2 separate regions of the Homo sapiens genome follow, and region 2 is linked to region 1. Evidence: fine-mapped expression QTL. A gene starts in region 1. The other region holds a variant in brackets. All regions are shown on one strand. Distances are between the middles of the regions. Region 1 holds the start of LRRC75A (leucine rich repeat containing 75A). Region 2 has its middle 20 kb from the start of LRRC75A.

Evidence for each region. PIP is the estimated chance that this variant, and not a neighbour inherited with it, causes the effect.
Region 2: its variant is the best candidate, but not a certain one, in a credible set for the expression of LRRC75A in whole blood (TOPMed, PIP 0.72).

Annotation. Positions count from the first base shown.
Region 1 is chr17:16,488,588-16,496,914 of GRCh38, forward strand. LRRC75A (leucine rich repeat containing 75A) reads right to left here and starts at 3,606. Exons shown (of 4, transcript NM_001113567.3): 1 at 3,158-3,606. The coding sequence starts at 3,403. All of the region lies in intron 2 of LOC124903936 (a long non-coding RNA gene), which reads left to right. RefSeq lists silencers at 3,209-3,268, 3,379-3,428, 3,519-3,858.
Region 2 is chr17:16,508,370-16,516,696 of GRCh38, forward strand. No RefSeq gene overlaps it. Among named protein-coding and RNA genes, the nearest start is that of LRRC75A, 20 kb to the left of the region's middle. RefSeq lists an enhancer at 7,915-8,327. The variant T/C (reference allele first, on the strand shown) is at 4,561.

The DNA of each region.
Region 1 (8,327 bases):
GAGAGGTTATCTGCTGGGCCCAAGGTCACAGCTGACTGAGGACCGGAAGGCGAGCTGCCTACTTGATCCTTGGCCCTGGACTCTTCTCAGATTACACTTATCTTAAAGGGAAGGGGATTACTTTCTGTTCCTTCAAGGCAGCTGCCTGGCATCCTGCCTGCACCCCTGGCCACAGCTCAGGGTCATTTGTGCTGAATGAGGCCTCCTGATACCTCTCCAGCAAGTGACAAGCTGGAGAGACGCCCTCCAAATCTTAGATGCTGAAGAGGGGCATTCAGAAGAAGTGGCACCAGCAGCCACAATCCTTCAGCCCACCGTGAACTGCCACACATGCACCCGGGTCAGGTCCCTGTTTCCAGATCCCCAGCCTGGAGCAAGTCACAGCAGGGAGAAGGGTGGTATTGGACTGGAGCAGAGATTCTGAGCTTGGAGTCTGTAGCTGGGTTTCAGGGGCTTTGTGAACCCTCCGAAATTGCCTGTGAGATTGCGTGAGTCAGTGCATTTGCCTGGGAAGATTGTGTGTAGCTTTTTCAGAGCCTCAAAAAGATCAAGGACTCAAAGAGGCTAAGAAGCACAGGAACAAAGGCTCCCGAGTCCCCACCAGCCATATGGCTCTGGGCATACACAAATCCAGCAGCCAAACCCAAGTTATCAAATGCAGGAGAACATGCTGTGTGAATGGAGGTGAGGGCTACTGTCCTCGCTGCTGCCCCTCCCTGGTTCTGTGCCTGCTCATTGACTCCCACCCCAGAGGCCTGCATGACATTCCTGCAGAACAGGGTGCCCCACGCTTTGCAGACCCCTGTCTTTACTGGCTGTCTTGCTGAGGAAGAGGTTCTTGCTGGTCTGACCCCTGTGAGGCTTGTGTGTTCTCAAGGCTCTCACTAGCTGCTCATTCCCTTTCTGAACATCACCACCACCAGACTAGAGAAGGAAACTGGAATGGAAAGGAAAATGCAATTTTGGAGAAAGAGCCACTTCAGTGCACAGCACAAATCCAGCTGGACATTCCTCCAAATGGCCTCAGGGTCCTAGAAAGCCACCTCTCTGTCATAGGCAAGTGAACACTCCTGTGCTCCACTCCCACACTGCTCAAGGCCCATGACCACTTTCGGGAGGGGTCCTGCTCCATCCGTTCCAGGCCACACAGGGCAGCTCCAGGCCCACGGCCCTTGCATCCCCAGCCAGGGGTTAAGGGAGCCCAACAGGAGCCCAGAAGCCCAGAGCCTGAGGACCTGCTGCTTTCACAGAAAAGGGGGAAGTCTGATAAGCCCCCTCCCACCCCCCCATCAGCCCTCCCAGTCCTGCAGCTGAGGCGGGTACCAGGACACCAATAAGACCCATGTGCAGATGTCTGAGGAAATGCTTCTTGTTTCAAGGATCCCACAGTGGGGCTGCAGGGGCTTATCTACTCTCCCTCAAGGCAGGGAGAAGCTCAGTGTCCCCAGGATGTGGAATCACACTCAGCCCTACAGGGACTGGGGAGCCCAAAGTATCTGCCCACTTTGGGTCCAGTCTCCTCCCGTGGGCCTCCAAGCGGCCCTCCATCATGCAAGCTTCGCTCTGGTCTTGCACCCTCCAAGAAGTGCTTGCCAGCTCCCTCTGTTCTTCTGTATCCCCCAAAGCACCCATTGCAGGGTGGGGGAAACAGCATGTGATCAGGAAAACCTTACTGTATGGTGTGTAAATAGGATACCATGGTCTGGAAAACCCAATATTCTGTTTAAAAGTGAAAGAGTTACTATAAAGGCCATATGTCAGCTTCCAATTTTCAAAAGACAAAGAAATACACACTGCTAAAGTTCAGTGGTGCATAATGTCATCTTTCTTTGATGACTGAACTCAGAGAAGGCACATGGGGATCCAGCAGCGTCTCGGGCATCATTCTGGAAGTTGTTGGGGAAAACAGAGGCAGAAGCAGAAGTCCCACATCTTCCCAAGTCCCCTCGTCTCTGCTTGCCTCTCCCTGTGCAGTGCACAGCTTGGGGACACATACTTTAGGGTAAGAGCGCACCAGATACAAAGGTGGGGAAGAGTGCTGCAGAACCCAAGAGGGATGTGGGTCTGATTAGATTTTGGAAGCTCCTCCCAAGAAGGTGCTCCTACAGCCTCTTTCAGCAGCGACTGGAAAACCCCAGAAAGGTCACCTGAGATTTTCCCTCTGCCATCCACGGTAGACTCCACCTCTAATGGGGTCAGTCTAGCAAGAATATGGGGCCTGGATTGTCTACCCACCAAAGCCAGGCCAAGACAACCTGCTTGGTGATGCAGGAGAGCAGCTTTGCACTCCCCTGCCTGTCTTATACTCAACAAAATCCATGGCATGGGCCATGCTCCTCTCCCCACCAAAGAAACTGACAAAGGAAAACAAGCCACAGAGAGGTGAGTGATAGCATTAGCCTCAGGGCAGCCCCAAAGCAGAGGGAACTGGCCAATTCCGCAACATCTGTCCCTAGCCAGTGGGACAGGCACAGGCTAAGGACAGAGTCCTGGCAGTCTCCTGAAGTTGCTGCTGGCCAGGTGGTCACACAGGGCACCAAATCCAGCTCCCCTGTCTCTACCGCTTTCCGCAGGGGCTCATGGTTGAGGATCTGCTGAAGTTAGTCAGGGGAGAGGAAACAGTCTCCTCCTTGAACTACAATCCAGGATGCCTCCCAGGCGAGTGAAGGACCTAGGGACTGGAATCTCATTGGCCCCAGGGCTGTGCCCCTGGACTCGCTCTCGGGAAGCCAAGCCAGGTCCAACTGATAACCGCATTCCTTGAGGACCCTCGGCCGGGAGTGACTGCCAGTGGGCAGACAGGAAGAAAAGAGCCCTGGCCCAGATCAGGCAGGCATCCCTGCTTCCCCGCCCACCGACTGTCCCCGGAGACCAGCCTCCTTCTCTGCCTGCGGAGGAGAGCAGTGGGGACATTATGCCAACAGGTCCCCTTCGGCGGGCCTCACCCGGCCAGCCTTCCTCCGCCCTGCCCTGAGGCCCCACATTCAGCGGAAGCGCCGAGGCACCTGCTGCCAGACAGGGCTCCATCCCCGCGGAAGGGGCCCCTGGGCGGTGCCCCTCGGTGCCCCCGGCTTCCTCGGTTAGGGATGGGGCGCCCCCCCCGGCCCAGCACGCCCCCTGGCCCGGCGCGCCCCCCGCGCCCCCTCCCCGCGCTCACCTGGCGCAGGTGCTGCAGCAGCGTCCCCGCCTCCTCCCGCCGGCCCTGGCGCACCATCCGCAGCAGCTCCTGGACCATGCCGACTCGCCGGTGGTAGGGGGGCATCCCCGCGCCCGCGCGCCCCGCCTTGTCCCCGGCGCGCAGCAGCAGCGACGCCCAGAAGTCCGGCCGTTCGCGTCGGGGGCCCGGCGCGGCGCCGGGGCTGGCTCTCTCCGCCAGGCTGCCCTTGGTCTGCCGGGTGCCCATGCCGCCGCCGCCCGCCGGGACTCTCCGCTCTGGGCCGCGAGGCCGCGTCCCCGCCAACCGCCCGCCCCTCGGCCGCCCGTGCGCGCTCGCCTCCCGGGCTGCAACTTTGGGGGAACTGTTGCGCGCGGGCGTCGCGGGGGCGGGCGGGCGGGCGGCTGTCGGCGCTCCCCGCGCTCCTCCCTCTTGGCTACCCGGGCGCGCTCCCCGGGCGCTCGCCGCCGGCCCGCCCGCCGGCCCCGCCCCGGCCCGGCTCGGCCCGCCCCGCCCCCCGCCTCCGCGCCGGAGCTCCGCGGCGTCGCGCGCCTCCCTCTTCTCGGGCTCCCGCTCCTTCCCGCCCCGCGGCTCCGGGCTGGGGACCACCACCAGGCGCCCCCTGCCTGCGTCCTCTCGGCAGTCGCGCCTCCTGCGGGCGGCAGTGCTGCGCTTCCCGGGGCCGTGGCGCGGGGGCGAGGGGAACAGGCAGGCCCCATGGGCCGTCGCTCTCGGTCCCCACCGGGCTCCCCGACGCTTCCACCACCGCGCGCCCGGTGCGTCGGGCGAGATGGGGAAAGTTTGGAGCATGGGGGTGTGTGTGTTGGGGGGCTCTCTTAGGCCCAGAGTCGGGTTTCTCAAGGTGGGTTCCGCTGAGCCTCAGCGCCCAAATCGTCGGAGGCGCTGGTTAAAAACGCAGGCTCTAAGGCCTCCACCGAGACCTACTGAATGATAATCTCCTCGGTGGGGCCTGGGATCCGCCTTTTTAGCCAGCATGTTGGGTGATTCCCATGCACGCTCCTTTGAGACCTGGCCTGCTTGCAGGGCGCTGTAGTGGTGTGGTTGGTGCGTAAACCTGGAAACTGTGCGAGCTTATGGGTTGTGTGCGTGCCCTTCTATGGAGAGGGCCTGTTGCTTCCATCATGCTCTCAAAGCATCTGGACCGGAGAGGTGTGAACTCCTGTGTTCTCTTGTTCTCACTCTCACAGCCCTGGAGAAGGGTCCCTGGGGTAGTCCTGGTACAACAAAGCAAACGCACGTCTGCGAGTAGGCCCAGCGGTACACCCTGCTGGCCCACCTTCCTCCCCGTGCCTCTGCCAGGCCCAGTCTGTAAGGGACCAGAGCCCTGGGATCTCATGGTGTTGCCAGGGCTTGCCAGAGTGAAGGCGAAGGCAGGTGGGGGAGCTTCTCTGTTGCAGACCACAGGCCGCCCTGGTCCCAGCGCAGGGCAGAAGCAATTGTGCAAGCTCGCCTCTGACCCCAGCTCTGGGTGTTGCTTGAGGGTGTAAGGGCACGTGGGCTGTAGGGGCAGGAGGCTGGATCCCAAATCACAGGGAGCTGAGCCCCACTACTTAGTGAGCACTGAGTATCAGGCGAGTCTTCAGCTTCTTGAGTCCTGATTCTTCCTGTCAGGCTAGGATAATAACACTGCCAAGAATTGGGAGAGTAAACTCGGTGGACACTGCTAAAGGAAAAAATTATTTAATGACATGAGTTAAAGCATCGTAAGGAAGACTTTATTCAGGACCATTACCATAGGTGTAGGGACCTCTGCTATGAGATTTTGCAGTTGCAGGGAGAGAGAGATTGAGCTCAACTCCAATTACAGCATGGGCAAGTGGGAATTCGTTGCTAAGGAGCAGGGTGGGGGTCAGCGGATAGAAACTTAATAAGGGAAACATCAGGGCTGAGGGGGATTCTGGCTAAACAGGTTGTATGGAGCACCCTTGACATAAGTAACTCCATCTTAGAAAAAGGGTCCATTTTACATTTGAAAAAGCCTCATGCCAACAGGAACCAGATGTTCGCCTAATCAATAAAGACTACACCCCACCAGATAAAGACATAAACAGGCACACTCTTTGCTATCAGTCCTCACCAGAGGATTCTGTAGCCATAAAAAGAGCAGGACTTCAGCAACTGGAGATGACCGTCTGGATAGACCCCATCTTGCCCACACTCTGCCCACATCAAAGACTCTTCCTTGCAAGACACTGAGGACTGTTTGGATCAGGCCAGGAGACTCCCCTTGTCCAAGTCACTCTCCTTGGACTATATTGTTAACCGCTCCTTCCCTATCCCCTTTTCTCTTGATGTTAAATGTACTTTGATGTGGAATGTGTAATCTATAACATTTATATATTGATTAAGTATACTACCATGTATGGTTGGCAGTATTGACTGACTTGTGGAGTGACTTGAGCCTGTATGCCCACAGCTCTTATTACCAAGTGAATGGGGAAAACTAAGGAGAATTTGCCTCCTTGAGAACCCCATGTGGCTTGTGGCTTTTATGACTGAAATAGCATCAATAAAAGCCTGACGTTGTAGAAAGACACACATGTGCATGAACCTGATTATTTCTGACTTTGTGGCACTCACAACACCAACCTAACAGAATTCTTGCTTTAGACAGGCCAGGTGACCAGAGATCACCTGGGGGAGGGTGGGGGATGATAAACCTAATCAGATATTGAAGATGATCAGATATACAAGATGGAGGGTTCTTGCTAAACTGTCTTAACAGGGTCTTTGCTAAAACTGGATTTTACATGGAAGTGCAAAGAGGGTCTAGGAGAAGGTTTGGGAGCCTGACTAAAGTTTGGCCAAGCAAAGAATCTTTGTCAATATATAAACTTCAAGCAGAGTAGAGATGTTCTGCAAATGAGTTCCTCTTCCTGCTCTGTGATCACAGGGTTTTCCATAGGTGTCTTCTCCGTTATCCCTGAGTACCTTGAGTATGAGTCCTGGCATCTCTCCTGCAGGCATTCTCTTCCCTTTGGCCACCCCACTCCCAAATGTCCATCTCTGCCAGCAGAGAACACTCAGTCTTCCTACAAGCTGGCTTTGCAGGGCTTGGACAGCACTTTCCAAACTTACCTGAACCCTTTGCATAGGAGCACACACCTGCTGGCATCTCCAGAGAACCCAGCTTGAAAAATACTTATGTGTCTCTCATCTCTGGTCTGCAGGACCACCAGACAAAGTGGCCACCAAGGACACCTATTGACCAGGCCCCTCCCTACAGACAGTGAGCTCTACCCACCTGGAGACAGACCACACAACCTAGATAGCCTGTTGGCCTGCTTGAGGGTGTGTGGTTGGGGCAAATGCCATTTCAATGGGAGAGGGGCCAGACCAGCCCCTCACTTGGGATCTGAATGTTAGCCCTCTCCTCTTTTTCAGAGACCTGATTCTATCCTCCTCCCCTTGCTCTTGATTTTTTTACCCTGACTTTTCCTGTTTTCTGGCTTGTTCTCCTCAAGATATGCTCTACTCACCTCTCTTCCATCTATTGAAAAATTTCATTTGCATCTGCCTGCTTCAGTCACCAGTGCCCCAACTTTATCCTTTCTTTTCAGCTAAGATTTTTAGTTTCCCTCCCTCCCTCCCTCCCTTCCCTCCCTCCTTCCTTCCTTCCTCCCTTCTTTCCTTTTCTCTCTCTGTCTTCCTCCCTCCCTTCTTTTTTTTTGAGACAGGGTCTCACCCTGTAGCCCAGGCTGAAGTGCAGTGGCACCATCACGGTTCACTGCAAACTTGATCTCCTGGGCTCAAGCTAGCTTCCCACTTCAGCCTCCCAAGTAGCCAGGATCACAGGTGCACGCCACCATGCCTAGCTAATTTTTGTAATTTTTTTTTGTAGAGACGGTTTTACCATGTTGCCCAGGCTGGTCTTGAACTCCTGGCCTCAAGCAATCCTCAGGCCTTGGCCCCCCAAAGTGCTGGAATTACAGGTATCAGTCACCACGCCCAGCCTATTGTCATTCTTTCTTTACCTCCATTCGTTCCTCACCCACTTCAGCTTGGCTTCTGGCCACACCATGTCACTAAAATGCCTCTTGCCTTTAGCCTTTAGCAACAGCTAAAGAAGTGACCTAGTTGCTACACTCAGTGGCCACATTCAGTCTTCATCTTACTTGACTTTTAAGCAGCATCTGATCCTGTTGCCTACTCTTTTGATTGAAACTCTACTCCCTTGGCTTGCAAGGAACTACTCTCCTCTAGGTTTCTTTCTTGAGTTCTCCTGGGAGCTCCTTTTCTTACCCTCATTCTTTACTTGTTGCCTTTATGCAGGGTACTACCCCGTATCTCTTCCTAGGCAATGCTATTTATTTATTCATTTATTTGAGACAGAGTCTCAAATAAACTTATTTGAGACAGGGTCACCCAGGCTGGAGTGCAGTGGTGCAATCATAGCTCACTGCAGCCTTGAACTCCTGGGCTCAAGGACACTCCTGTTTCAGCCACCCGCGTTTCTGGCACTACAGGCACATTACCAACATGCTCTGCTGGGCAATATTATTTGTAATCATGGCTTTACTTGCCATGTACACGCTGATGACTCTTTCCAACTTATAAGCTAATAAATTAACCTGTCATTGATTCATGGATGCTAAAAGAAGACATGACACTCTGTGGTCAGAAACATAGGACTTTGTTACTCAGAGCACAGCAAGAAGCATGTGCATCAGCATATTTGCCTCCAAGTCTCACAGGGGCAATATGGGGGGCCCAGATGGATGTTCCACAGGCAGCTGGTTAGCGTCATAGCTGAGGAACACCGAGCCTGGAGCTGCTTATGCAGGGAGGAGTAAGCAAGCCTGCTCTTCCTCCTCCAGGGAGATGGTACCTCATCCCTCAAGGCGGCTCGCTGTAAACACAGCACTGAGAAGTGGCCCAGGTTAAAAATGGTCAGGGTCTTGCAATCTTGGCATACACAGCAAGATGTGTGAGAGTGCAAGGGACCCACGGAGGATCATCTCTTCCAATAGTGAGCACTTCATGCTCGACAAATGAGCGCATCCTCTTCCAGGCCTCCCTCCCAATCTACCCACTCCTGTCTCCGCTTTTAGTAACAGCAGGCCAGAAACCCGGGAGTCATTGTGCACTCTTTGTTTAACCTGCATCTTGTTAACCAAGGATAGTTAATGATGCCAAGGATGGGAGCTCTCAT
Region 2 (8,327 bases), 20 kb after region 1:
GTCTCTGGCTGGGTGAGGTGCTGGACACTCCCTGTAGGCCATGGGAATGGCCTATAGGACAGATTCTGAGCAGGAGGGTGACAGGATCGCCTTGAAGTTAGAACCATCACTCGGCAATGCAAGATTACTTATCCGATTTATTCATTCTTGCTTCCAGACTATGTAGAAACTGGCAAAAAGCCTAAAAGTCTAGTGTTTTCAGGCCTGTTTGGAGAGAATGATGGACATGGGTTTGTGAAATATCAAATGCTTGTTCTGACCCAAATTGCTCATAATCAGAAAGAGTACCTTTTCTTTTTTTTCTTTTTTTTGAGATAGGGTCTTACTCTGTTGCCCAGGCTGGAGTGCAGTGGCATGATCATAGCTCACTGCAGCCTTGAACTCCTGGATTCAAGGGATCCTCCCAACTCAGCCTACTGAGCATCTGGAACTACAGTGTATGCCAACACACTTGGCTAATTTTGTATTTTTTAGTAGAGAGAGAGTCTCGCTATTTTGCCCAGGCTGGTCTTGAACTCCTGGCCCCAAAGGATCCTCCCACCTTGGCCTCCCAATGTGTTAGGATTATAGGCCTGAGCCACTGCACTCAGCCAGAGGAGTATGAATACTTAGATATTTGCACACAAATCTCAGTCTGACATAAGTCTGCAACTCCAGCAGCAAAAAAAAGTCTCTATTCTCTTTTCTCAGCAGTGTTTCAAATTGAGCCTTATTGATTATGACCTTGTAGTTTATCTCTCGCAAGTAGCTTTCTAATAAAAAATACTTATGTAACTGTCTTTACTTAATGTTCAAGAGTCTAGCATATTCTCCGTGAATCAGGAGACTAATATTTTATGCTGGCAGTGACACAGAAACCCACAGTTCATTGTCTGAGACTACAGCTTGTCCCAAAGATCCCCATGGAACACGAAGTAATCCCCATCAGCTACAGCCAGAAAATCAGTTTCCTATGAAGTTAGAACAATACGGCTGGGTTTCCAGGAGGTAAAGCATCCTGAAGCTTTGCTGGATGGTATTATTTCTGGTTTTCGCCAGGCTGCAAAGAATTTTCACTTGTTATAATAGGGCAGTCCATTTCCTGCAAAGAAATATCTTTCCTAGGGGTCTGTCTACTCTATAGCTCACAATGTTCAGAAATAACAAGAACTTTACAAGTGTTTACAAACATCGTCTTGTGTTAGGCAAGTATCAAAAAATCTTGTCTCTCACAGACGTTTCAGAGAATCCACACAAATAACTCAGAAAGTCTGTTCATTGCAGAAAAGCTAGTATGAGTTTGCCTTTTTTTTTTTTTTTTTTGAGACAAGTTCTTGCTCTGTCACCCATGCTGGAGTGCAGTGGCGCAATCATGGCTCACTGCAGCCTCAAATTCCTGGGCTCAAGTGATTCCCCTTCTTCAGCCTCCTGAGTAGCTGAGACTATAGGGACATGCCACCATACCCAGCTAATTTTTTTTTTTTTGAGACAGAGTCTCACTCTGTCACCCAGGCTGGAGTGCAGTGGTGCGATCTCAGCTCACTACAACCTCCGCCTCCTGGGTTCAAGCAATTCTCCTGCCTCAGCCTCCGGAGCAGCTGGGACTACAGGCACGTGCCATCATGCCCAGCTAATTTTTGTATTTTTAGTGAAATGGGGTTTCATCATGTTGGCCAGGCTGGTCTCGAACTCCTGACCTGAGGTGGTCCACTCGCCTCGGCCTCCCAAAGTGCTGGCATTACAGGTGTGAGCCACCACACCCGGCGAATACCCAGCTAATTTAAAAAAATTTTTGTACAGACAGGGTCTCACCACGTTGCCCAGGCTGGTCTCGAACTCCTGCACTCAAGCCATCCTCCTGTCTTGGCTTCCCTAAGTGTTGGGATTACAGGTACAAGCCACTGCACCTGGCCTGTTCTGACTTTTGTGCGGCGTGAAGTGAAGAAACTTAACAGGGCATTTCCTTTCGTGCTGTTCTGGCTGTGATGAGCATTTGCAGAATCCCTGGGCATTATTCTCATGGCATTACTCTCTCACTAAAGAGTCTGAGGGCTCGAAGTCATTATCACTCAGTTCTCTCTGAAACTTCAAGTCAGCATCTCAGCTATTCTGTCAATGTTGTGAGCAAAAACTAGTAGCCACACTTTCCAAGTGACAGAGAGGAAGTGTGAGCATGCCACTTCATTACATTTCCTCTCCGGTTGACAGAAGATTCTGACCATTCCTCTTGTTGTCTAGAACAATGGCGGGTGATTTTGTGTCCAAAGGTCATGTGGCAATGTTTAGAGACATTTTCCATTGTCATGACTGGGGTTGAGGGAGCTACTGGCATCAGGTGGGTAGAGGCCAGGGATGTTGCTAAACATCCTACAATGCCCGGACGGCCTCCTCTCCGCGAAAAGAATTTTCCAGTCTAAAATACCAATGGTGTCAAGATTAAGAAATCCTGGTCTAGAACTAGAATCCAAATGCCCCAGTGCCAGCCATTTAGTTCTCTCAGAAAGCAGACTTTTCTGCCCACCCCAATCATGTTCCCCTTTTGTAGTGATGGAAGTTATAACAAGATGCAAGACCAGATTACATTTTCCAGCCTTCTTTGCAGTTTAGTGTGGCCATTTCAGTAGCTCCCACCAATGGAACAAGACCTAAAGTGATGTGTGCCACTCTGGCCAAGGCTTCTGAGAATTCCCTTTTCCCTTCTGCTGGCAAGATGTAGATGACAACTAGGCTGTATGGGAGAGCCATGATGGGAGCCTGGATCCCTGCATCGCCCTATGGCAGAGAGCTGCCCATCGGCTGAAAACACATGCTGCAGTCGCTTATGTGAGTGAGAAATAAACTCCTGTGTTTGAGCCAATTTACATCTTTAGGTCTACTTGTCACAGCAGCTTAGCTCACCCTAGCCAGTAAACAGCCAATCCCCAAGAGCCTATTTTGATGCTAGGAGCCTTAGGAAGCAGAGAGAGCTCTGAATGAGGCAAACATGGCAGGGATCTTTGCCCCTGAGGTTAGCTTGGGTCCCCTCTGCTAAATGGTAGGAGCAGCGCAAGTTCAAGCCTGCCATCAAGGGGCCCTTGCTTTGTTTAGTACAGCCTTGACTTCAGGAGTAGGTTGTGATATGATCCCCACTCTGTGTGATTTCAGCTACGTCATCACGATTAGACACTTAGGCTACTCCGATGGTCCATTTTATCTGTCAGCTCAACTGGGCCACTAGATGCCCAGATATCTGGTCAAACATTATTCTGCTGTGTCTGTGAAGGTGTTTCTGGACGAGGTCAGAATTTGAATCTGTAGACTGAGTGAGGCTGATTGTTCTCTCTAATGTGGGTGAGCTGCATCCCATCAGTTGAAGGCCTGGGTAGAACACAAAGGCTGAGTAATAGGAAACCCCTTCCTGCCTGACTGTGGGGACCAGGACATTGGTCTTTTTCTGTCTTTGGTCTCAAACAGAAACATCTGCTCTTCTTGGGTCTTGAGCCTGTGGCTTTCAGACTGGAATGTATACTCCTGGGTCTTCAACTTGCTGACTGCAGATCTTGGGAAGTTTCAGCCTCCATAATTGCACAGGCCAATTCCTTACAATAAATCTCTCTCTGTCTCTGTCTCTCTCTTTCTCTACACACACACACACACACACACACACACACACACACACACACACACGCATCCTGTTGGTTCTTTTCCTCTGGAGAACCCTAATACAGTTGCAAATTGCAGAAACTCACCTGAAAGCAGTTTAGGCAGAAAAGGGAAGAGGCTCAGAGAACCAAAGCACAGGAAGTGATGGGGTGCAGCTGGCCGCAGGGACAGCTGGACCAGCAGGGCGCATTTTCTCCACCTCTTATCCCCACTGCTCTGGGTGTGTTGGCTTCATTCTCTCTTTGTGCAGTTAAGCCTCTTCACACAGCAGGGAAAAAGCATCATGATCTCTAAGCTCATATCCTCACAGCTGCTGGGCCAAAGAGGAAGCGTCCTCCCTGTCTCTCACTTGAAAATTCTGGGAGGGACTTGGGTTGAGCATCCCTGCTGTGCCTGGAGCAGGCTGTATTATCAGGAGAAATAAGGAATGGGCATAAAAAATGGCTGTACATTGTTTCTTGCATGTACTCTGTGACATTGGGATATGGTCACTGTCCCCTTCCACTTCTGCTGGCTCATCTTTGCCTCCCATCCCTGCTACTTTGACCCAGGGAATCAAAGTGTAGCCTCAGGGAGCAAATTACAGAATTTTTTTCCAACAACCCCTCCCCCACCACTCCTACATTGGCAGTGGTGGCTGTCCAAAACGTGACAGGAGAAAATTCTAACTGTGCAAAATGTGATAGATCCTACAACATGATGATACATGAGATCTGTCATGTAACTCAAGCTGGAAAAATTTCAGCAAGATAAACTGACTGCCATACATCTTAACTAGTCCCTGTCCAGTTTCTATTGGCTAATGCTAGTTTGTTTCTTTTATTTTTTTGAGATGGAGTCTTGCTGTGTCACCCAGGCTGGAGTGCAGTGGCGCAATCTCAGCTCACTGCAACTCCCGCCTCATGGATTCAAGGGGTCCTTCTCTCTCAGCCTCCCAAG[T/C]AGCTGGGATTACAGATGCGTGCCACCATGTCCAGCTAATTTTTGTATATTCTTAGTAGAGACGGGATTTCACTATGTTGGCCAGGCTGGTCTTGAACTCCTGACCTCAGGTGATCCACCCGCCTCAGCCTCCCAAAGTGTTGGGATTACAGGCGTGAGCCACCGTGCCTGGCCCATCCTAGTTTCTTTCTTTCTTTTTTTTTTTTTTGAGATGGAGTTTCACTCTTGTTGCCCAGGCTGGAGTGCAATGGCATGATCTTGGCTCATAGCAACCTCCGCCTCCCGGGTTCAAGCCATTCTCCTGCCTCAGCTTCCCAAGTAGCTGGGATTATAGGCATGCGCCACCACGCCTGGCTAATTTTGTATTTTTAGTAGAGAAGGGGTTTCTCCATGTTGGTCAGGCTGGTCTCAAACTCTGGACCTCAGGTGATCCACACACCTCGGCCTCCCAAAGTGCTGGGATTACAGGCGTGAGCCACTGCGCCCGGCCATTTATTTCATTCATCATACTTATCATACTCTGTGATTCCTTGCTTGATTTGTTTACTTGTTTACTGTCCACCTTTCCTACCAGAATTAAGCTCCCTGAGGGCCAGGTTCCATCTGTCTTGGTTCTTGCAGTGCCTCCGTACCTGGCACAGTGGTTGGCATGCCCCTGCTTGTGATGTGTGTAACAGAATATGCCTTTTGCCAATGCTCAGGGTGTTGCTGGGGTTTTGCTGAGGTTTTCCACTTTTCTCTGCACATGGTGACTTAAAGGTCTGCAGGCACTTCTTTGAATCTACTCTTATTTCCGCCATGCCTCGCAGAAGTTCCTTGAGGTCTCTGAGGCCTGAGCGGCCGTTTTCTTCTATGTCTAGTGTAATCACCCTCTACTTTCATACTCTTTTAGTCATTTCAGTGACAACTTGGAAGATGGGGATTCCCGGTACGAGATTGGAAAGGCATAAAATGATACGGCAGTGATCGCTCTTTGGAGATGGTGCTCATAGTCTCACCTTCCAGGGGTTTTTCCTTCATTCTACAAATATTTATTTATTGGCAGGGGCTCGGTTCACTCTCTTGAGCCACTCTCTTGGGCAAGTTCCAAGTCCTCATGTTGACCTGTCTGCCGCATTTGCCATTGCGACTGCTCTTTCCTGTCTGGGGCTTTCTCCACCCTCTTGTTTCTCAATGCAGTAGGGGTCAAGACCCTGCTCCTTCCTAGTTTGCCTTCTTCCTCTTTGACATCACCTCTCCATCTTCCTCAGAGAATCCCCCCTTCCTTCAGTATACCACATGGCACACTGGTCCACTGATTTGCCCTTGTCCAGCTTCTCTTCCCAGGCAGTCTCCTCCGAGGCCTTTGGTTCAGTTCCCTTCTGCAGGAGCTGGTTCTCAATTGCGCGTGTGGAGTCAGAGCACAATCACATCTCAAACTCAACACGTGCAGGGTGGAGGTCGCTTCCTCCCCACACCCTTGCTCCTCTCGCTTCTCTTTCCCTCAGCATTTCCCTGCTCCTCATCCAACTTGCAGCCAACTCTTGTGGATTCTACATTCCCAGCATCTCTCTGGGACCCTACCTCTCCATCCTGGCTACCCTTGCCTTAGTCCCAGCCAGAATCATGTTTTTGTTTTGTTTTGTTTTGTTTTCCCAAGACAAAGTCTTTTTCTGTCACCCAGGCTGGAGTGCAGTGGCTCGATCTTGGCTCGCTGCAACTTCCGCCTCTTGGGTTCAAGTGGTTCTCCTGCCCCAGCCTCCCGAGTAGCTGGGATTACAGGCGCGTGCCACCACGCCTGGCTAATTTTTGTATTTTTAGTAGAGACAGGGTTTCACCATGTTGGCCAGGCTGGTCTCGAACTCCTGACCTCGTGATCCACCCACCTCAGCCTCCCAAAGTGTTGGGATTACAGGCGTGAGCCACGGTGTCTGACCCATGTTTTATGTCTGTTAGTGTGACCCCTATCTTCTTGCCTCCAGTTCTTCTCTCCTTTTAGCTCCTCCATGCCTCCTTTAAATGATCTTCCTATAATACAGCATTGTACTATATCTGCAATACAGCATTGTATCCGACTTCCTCCTTTCATTTATTTATTTATTTTTTTTTGAGATGGAGTCCTGCTTTTGTTGCCCAGGCTGGAGTGCAATGGCACAATCTTGGCTGACTGCAACCTCTGCCTCCCGGGTTCAAGTGATTCTCCTCCCTCAGCCTCCCGAATGGCTGGAATTACAGGTGCCTGCCACCACGCCGGGCTAATTTTTGTATTTTTAGTAGAGACAGGGTTTCGCCATGTTGACCAGGCTGGTCTTGAACTCCTGACCTCGTGATCTGCCTGCCTTGGCCTCCCAAAGTGCTAGGATTACAGGCGCAAGCCACCGCGCCCAGCCTGACTTCATCCTCAATACCTCAATACCTTGAATGCTGAATTAAGTCCCAAATCCTTGTCACCAGAGGCCCTTCATGGCCGGGCCCCTGCCCATCTCTCCAGCCTCCCCTCCATCCCTTGCACCCTACACTCCAAGTCTGCAGAACTGTTTGGAGGTGCCCAGAGTGTACTACCCTACCCTACCACACTGTGCTGCTTCCTTTTCACAAACACCTCTGTATTCGTTTGCTAGAGCTGTCATAACAAAATACCACAGCCCGGGTGGTTTAAACAACAGAAAGTTGTTTCTTCCCAATTCCAGAGGCTAGAAGTTCAAGATCAAGGTGTTGGCAGGGTTGGTTCCTTCAGAGGCCTCTCTCCTTGCTTGTGGATGGCATCTTCTCCCTGCCTCTTCGCGTGGTCATCCCTTTGTGGGTGTCTCTGTGGGTGTCTGTGCCCTAATCGCCTCATAAGGACACCAATCCTACTGGACTGGGGTCCACCCTAATGACCTCATTTTGACTTAATTACTTCTTTAGAGACCTATCTCCAAATAAGGTCCTATTCTGAGGTTGTGGGTATTAGACTTCATGAATAATTTTGGGGGGACCATAATTCAGCCCATAACGCTTCTCCCTCTGGCTAAAAATGAATGTCATTCTCACATGCAAAATACATTCACCCCATCCCAACAGTTTCCAAATCTTAACTCTTTGCAGCACCAACTTTTAAGTTCAAAATCTCATCTAAATCTCATCTAAACCCAGTATGGGTGAGGCTCCCAGTATACTTCTTCCTGAGGCAAAGTTTCTCTCCAGCTGTGAAACTGAAACCGGACAACAAGCTATGTACCTCCAAGACCTAGGGGTGGGGCCAGCATAGAAAGAAATTGGAAAGGAGAAAGGGGTCACGTGTTAGGGTACTTCCATGTATGCATTTTTGAGGTTAACTCAATGGAGAGTAGCCTCCCTTAGTGAACCTGGAAGATGCCACACGCCATTTAACGTCCACTTATCAGGGTGCCCATTTGGAAGCCTCTTCCTCCTGTGCTTCTCCGTACGCCACCCAGTATATCTCTCCATCTCAGTGCCATAACACTCACCACATCCATCTGATGGCTGACTCTCTTCCCTGCCAGACTACACACCTCACGACTTCCAGTACATGCTCTATGAGTGACTATTACGCACATAAACCCCATGAGAGGGGCTTTGTTGTTTTGTACATGCTGTGTCCTCAGAGTCTAAAACAAGTCTGGTAGATGGCAGGTAATCAACAAATATTTGTTGAATCCGTGAGTGAATACAAATAAACACACACACCAAACGTGTATCATGTGCACATTCTGGATTCTGATTTTCCAGGAGTCTGTGAATCTATGCAGTTTCTTCAAGGAGAGTCCAAGGGGACATCAACACAC